2 linked regions of the Homo sapiens genome follow. The protein of the gene in region 1 purifies or fractionates together with the protein of each later gene. This does not show direct contact. Each region holds a gene or a part of one and is shown on either strand. Other genes may lie near its edges.

The links.
Region 2: the proteins of SLC38A12 (region 1) and DLK1 purify together in Homo sapiens (co-immunoprecipitation; one large-scale study listed by IntAct). This does not show direct contact.

What each region holds. Positions count from the first base shown.
Region 1 is NC_000017.11:74,837,830-74,840,453, reverse strand, and holds the end of SLC38A12 (transmembrane protein 104), read right to left. Parts: 3' UTR 1,568-2,624; coding exon of another isoform or gene 1,353-1,567; 3' UTR 701-1,352; downstream 1-700.
Region 2 is NC_000014.9:100,729,854-100,733,599, forward strand, and holds part of DLK1 (protein delta homolog 1 isoform 1 preproprotein), read left to right. Parts: intron 1-2,188; coding exon 2,189-2,330; intron 2,331-3,746. UniProt on the Homo sapiens protein: May have a role in neuroendocrine differentiation.

The DNA of each region.
Region 1 (2,624 bases):
TTGTGGCCGGGGGGGGGGGGGGGGGGGCAGGAGGATATGAGTCCTGGGGGACAGGTAGCAGGAAGGCTGCATCCTGAGTTCAGAACTAGCTTGGCCTGGCTTCCTGCACCACCAAGGGAAGGAAAGAAAGCGTGGCAGGGGAGAGGAGAGAGAAGTAAGGCTATAGATGTGAAAGCATCATAAACAAGGGCCTGGCGACCCACATGCTCAAATACCATTGTTTTTCTTTGGGTGAGGTACAGAAAGAGGGAGGCCCTTGTGGCTGGCCTCAGAGCAGGAAAATCTTACTAACTGGGGTCCCTTCTGTTGCTGCTGTAGCTGTTTTTCCTTGTGTCTAGCTGAGCGGCTTGTGGTCCAAGCCAGCTTTCTGCAGGGAGCCAGGTGTGTGTGGGGGAGGAGGGCAGAGCTTGCAAAAGGGCAGGCTGATGTCTTCAGCCAGGACCCTCCAGCCTAGCCTGTCCTGCTCTTTGAAAGGGGAGGACTGTCCTCAAGTTTCCTAAGGGACTGGGGAACCAGAGTCAACCCCTATCCCCAAAGCCCTCTAGACTCCAGAGAATTCAGACCAATTTTCTGTTTCTGAATTGCAACCCGGCGACAACTCATTAGAAGGCTATGAAACCAGGTAGGTGTCTTGAGTCCTAATGAGTCAGGGGTCCCTGGCTACAAGTAGTTATGGCTGGTGAGTGATGTGGGAAACAGGTATCACTGAATAGCTTTATTGAGCATTTTGGGCTGGGCACTAAGCTCAGCACTTTAATCCCCACAACTGGCCAGTGACATAGCTGTTACCCCACTTTACAAATGAGGGAGGACAGGTCACGGAGGCTCGCTGCCTCAAATGGCAGGCCCGGCTGCCTGGTCCCAATGCAGAAAGTACCCAATGCCATGCCTGGCACATAATGACCCTCAGCGGAGGTTACCCCTCCAGTCTGCAATCAACACCATTGGCCCCAGGTGGAAGGGATCCCAAGCTCTCTCCAGCTTTCCAGTGGCCCTTAACCATGGGTCACCCTTGCTTGGGAATCTGCCCCCAGACAGGACGCTTCCACTTCCCCCAGGCCTGGCACTGCCAGCCACTGCCCCTCTGCAGTGGCTTTCCAGGAGCGGGGCAGCAGCCCCTGTCCTCCCCACCACTCTGACTCTGGCCTTTGCCTGTTGCCGAGGCTGCTCCCTGCCCCGTAGTGAGGACAGCTGTGTGGCTAGGGGCCCGTCATGGTGCCACTGCCCACCTCCACCACCCAGCAGTGCTTCCCAGTCTATCACCTGCCATCCGCCCCATCTATAAGCTGGCAGCTGCTGCTCTAGCCTCAGGTGAGGAACAGCCAGGAGCTGCTGGCATGAGGCTCTGGGGCTCAGGTGGGTCTGGTGCTTCTGTGGGGAGGGAGGCAAAGAAAGTTTACTCCCACCTTGACCTGGCCTGCACCGGGGGCATCTGGGGCCATGCAGGTGGCAGATGTTGGGTAGAGGCTGTTGAGTTTAAGCTTTCCTCCACAACGACACCTGCTCCTGGGCCAGGCTGGGCTGGCATCCTCTTCTGCTCTTCCCATCACTGACCCCGGGGGCCCATCTGCAAAATGGAAACCACAAGCTGAGCTTGCCTACTTTGCCAAGTTGATGATGGCTGCAGTGAAACGTGCCGGATGCACGTGGAGAGCCAGCATCACCTGGGGCTCTCTTGCTGTTGGGGTTCTCTGCCCCTGGCCCCAAGCCCCATTGGCCGTCAGCGGCAGAAGCCTGGCATCGATGGAGAGGAAGGTGACCTCATCTGACTTACAGCAGGAGGACACTGAGGAGCAAAGCAGCTAGACAACGGCAGTGGTGAGGGTCCCCACTTGGCATCAGCGATGTGGTCACTGCTGGCCAGTTCCCTCCAGGGCAGGGAACACGGCCACCGACTCCATGGCTGGGCGGTTCCAGACTGTCACATAAATCAACCTGGGCTTTATGAAGCTAATGAATTTGCGTCCAAGATTTGGTTTGGAGCCTCGGGTGGCAGGATGATTTAATTAGCTTTGTCTTTAAGCAAGAGGGAACGTAATTGGAGAAGGGTAGTTCCAGATGTTTTGAGTTTTCAGCCACAGTGGGGCAGCCAGGTCTTCCTTGCTCTTGGCCTGACCACTGCAGGCCCCTGCTCTACCCAACCTGAGAGGCCTCCTGGGAGGAAGTCGCAATGATAGATGGAGAAGGGGCATTTGTTTTTCCCGTGGATGGAAAGTGACACGTGGGGACAAGCTATGAGAAACACTGAGGTGCGACGGCACAGAGAAAGCGGGCTGAGGCCAATTACACCACGCAGGGACTCTCCCAGGCTTCAGCTGCCAGGGCAGAGGTGGCGCAGCCCGTGGGCTCCCCGAGTTCCCTGCAAATCCCACCCCTGACCCTGAGACCACCTTGGGCCCCGGGAGACCCTACATCGTCGCTCTGTCAGAGGTCTGAAGACGCTGAGATACAGGGGAGGGGCTGAGCAAGGCACTGAACTCAAAAGAGGGAGGGGTGGGGCCTGAGACCCACCCCAGAGAGGTAGCTCCAGGCCAGGGGCTCTGGGCTCCAGGACAGGTGGGGCCAGGCCCAGGGCTGGGGGCAAGCCAGTGAGGGTCAGGGGGACCCCCAGGTCCTGAAGCAGT
Region 2 (3,746 bases), on another chromosome or scaffold:
CCCCTGTCCCTCAGTCCCCAACATTAGTAAAGACGGTACAGATAGGGAAACTGAGGATCAGAGAAGCACAAGTGTCTGCTAAGGAATATGAAAGAAGTTGGGCAAAAAGCCAGCTACAACCCTTTCCCCCAGCCCCAGAAAGAGAGTTAATTTTTATCTTCGATTGCATCTAACATCCTTCCTTAAGGAACACCTAAGAGCATTTTGTTGTGGCCCCTGCCCTGTACAGCCAGGGCAGCCGTGGTTCTGAAGCTGAGCTCCCTCCCACCCCAAATTGTCTCTGGTCCTTAATTCCAGCCCCTGCAATATGGTGCAAGGTTTACCCGCAGCTGACTCATGCTCTGGCCAGCATCTCTGCTGCCCCTCACAGAAGCAGCGGCAGCAGCTCTGAGTCGTTTGAGGATCTGGGGGATTCCAGCAAAGCCACCATTTGGGATCAGGGTTAGGCTTTTAGCTTGGAGCCCATCTTTTTGGTATCTAAATGCCGTACACCCTTGCTGAAATTTTCCGGACAAATGCCTCCCTTCTCATGGGCCCTTGGTATGTCCCCTCCCCACCAAGTTGACAAAGGCAGCCAGCTTGGGGATGGCCAGAGAGTCTGGGGTCCCAGAGAAGACATAGCCCTCCCTCTCCCTTTTTGCCCATCTTTGAGGCTGTCGTGGCCACAGCTGCTGTCCCAGCAGAGACCCCCAAGCAGCCTTTTCCTCAGAGCAGCTTAATTCACCCCTGTCTTGGGGTTGGAGGCTCAGGAGGGCTGATCCAGGATTGGCATAGCAGGGAGAGCTGCAGGGACAAGCTGGGGGTGGTCGCCAGCTTTTTAGCTTAAATTTAAGATTCTGAGTGACAGGAGAGTCGGGTGCAGAGAATAAGGAGCCTGACGCGGAGGCGCCACGTGCTAATGCCTTGCCGGTGCCGTCCCGTAAAGATAAATCCTCTTTATGTGTCCTTGCACCAAGCCGGGCTTCCATGGAACACCACGGGGTAGTCCATCAACACAACGTTCAGGCTCTTCCTCCTTGATTGATTGCAGTCTCCCCTCCACGAGGGTGTGGGTCTCTCTGAGAGGGGGAAAAAATACGCACATGTGTGGCCTCAGCACGGGGGATTTCCCCTCCCCCCACCCCCTCCAGCCTGCCTTAGCTTGCTGTGTCTCTCACTGGCCCTGGCTTTCTGTTTGGCAGGTACAGCAGCTCAAATTATAGAAAATCAAAGCTGAAGAGTCCCTCAGAGATTGGCCAGGGAAAGACCCTCTTTTTATAAGTAGGGAAACTGAGGCCCAGAATGGGTAGGAGCTGAACTCTGCTGCCACATGGCAGCAGGCCGGATACAGGGCAGGACAGGGGTCCCTTCCTGGCCCCACTGGGGAGCTGGGGTCTCCATCATCAGAGAGCCCCTGACTCAGGCCCTTGTGTTCAGCTCATCCCTGGCTTGCTGAACCTGAATAATGAAGTGTGCGTGATGGAAGGTGTTAAAAGATGGTGGGAATATACCAGTGCTCATGGAAACCTGTGCTGATAGGAGAGCGCTCAATAGTTCTAATTTCCCTGGCTTTAAAAGATGAAGCCTTTTTACCAGGGACCCCTTGAGTTCAGAGCCTGAGTGCAGAAAGAGAGACCACAGGGACACGTGGTAGTGCTGGGGTTAACAGGTTTCTTGATTCCTGACGGAGGGGGGTCGTTACATCTCCATCCCCCCCACTGCCCCTCTTTGATGGAAAAGTATGAAGAGCTGGTGGTTTTTCTGAGGGTTGGGCTGTATTCATCCCCCGGCTGGCCAGGACCCCTCCCCTAACAGGAGAGGGTGGAGATGCAGTCTTGTCTGGTGGAGACAGGCCTTAGGGAATCTCAGCTAGGCACGCTGTTGCAGGGAGGGGCATGATGTCCACAGTGAACGTCACGGACATGTCGCTGGATATGGGGTGACCTGGTGCCAGGCAAAGGGAACAGCTATCCTGGCCTGAATATCAGTGGCCACGACTTTCTGATCTGTGACCTTAGGCAAGGAAACCCCTTCAGCTTCCTGAGCCTCAGCTTACTCACTTCATGGGTTTTTTTGAGGGGGCTCCCTAAACCCTCTTACTCCAGACCCCACTCGGTGGCCATAGAGCCATTTTAAAGCCCACTGGGGCCCGCATCACGCTCGTGTATGGAGAGGAAGCTAAGTTCTCGTCTTCCCCGTCACCCCGCAGATGTTCGGGCCTGCTCCTCGGCCCCCTGTGCCAACAACAGGACCTGCGTGAGCCTGGACGATGGCCTCTATGAATGCTCCTGTGCCCCCGGGTACTCGGGAAAGGACTGCCAGAAAAAGGACGGGCCCTGTGTGATCAACGGGTAAATATCCTTCCTGTGTGTGATCTAATGAATGCTGCTTTTCATGCGGCCACCAAAGACCCTTTCAGCCTAACCCTGCTGGACCTGTCGTCTGACAAAAGATGAAGTAAGCGCTCATCCTGGCAGCCCCGTAGGGGACCGCCCTGGATGGGAGTATTCACGGGGGAATGTGTCATTGCCATAATTTTTTCAAATGATCCTGAAGGCGATTTCATATTCCCCTGATGTTCTCAAGTCCCGATGCGTGTGAGTGACAGTCGATCGGAATGATGAACTGACACTCGGAGCTGCGTAATTTTCTAAAGGCAACGTAGTAAAAGATTGGAGCTCCGCGGGGCTGAGGCTGTTTGTGAAACCCACTTGCTGTATCTCAGGGGGTGGTTTTGGGGAACTGGTGGGCTCTGCAATTGGATTTTCTGGGATGTCTGTGGAGGGAGTTGCCAGGCTGAGAGGTGAAGAGATTGGGCTTCTGCCAGCACGAGAGGAGGTGGGCCAGCTGTCGGCTATCCTCAGTGGGGAAGGGGGCTTTGGGACTCCTGGGCAGCGGACATAACAGACAGAGTGGCCACTGTCTTCACTTGGACCTCCCTGAACAATGCTTCCCAGCAGCTCAGCCTCTGCCCACCCATTATCTCTTTGGCGGCCCTGAGCCATCCCTCCCCGCTGGATGGGGCTTAGCCTGAAGCCAAGGGAGATCTTGACAGAGGCAGGGTCCGAATGTAAGAATCCAAACTTGAACCCAGTCCTGGGCCTGTAGTTGGGGGGCAGGGGTGTCCCTTTCCTCTGAAGAAACAGAAGCTAACATGCAAATAAGCTTATCTTGACCGGACATCGCAGGGTGGCACAGAGACCCCAGTAGTCTGTAAGAGCTGTAAACAGACATTAACGGGGCTTCCAAAGATCAGTCTTCAGACGGGGTCAGAGTGGGGGCTGGTGAAGACTGAACTCCATTTCTGCTTATTAGCAGGAAGGAGAAAAACAGAGCGAGACCTTTAAAATATTTTGCTTTTCTCGCGAATGGACTTAAACCAGTGTGTCAAAATAGAGCCTAAGGCCCTTGAAATTCCTTCAGAGCCCAGCTCCCATGCAGCCCACACCCTGAAGCAGCAGTGCTGATTTCTTGTGTTTACTGCCCCTTCTTCCCCGGAGTTTTGCCATTTATCGGATGACAAAGGGCTCGCTCGTTTAAAAGCACTTACATTAAATGCTCCTTGTACTCCACTTTGAGCAAACAGCTTTGGTTTGCAAGCTGCACTTGGGTGAATGGACCACTATTAAACAGCCTGGTACAGACGCTGGCTTGTGCCACCGTAGACAGACCTCGTATTGCTTTCTCTTTGAGAGTCCCCAAGCGCTTCCTGCACAATAGCCTGTGGATCCACACCGCTAATAATAATAATAATAATAATGAGGGTT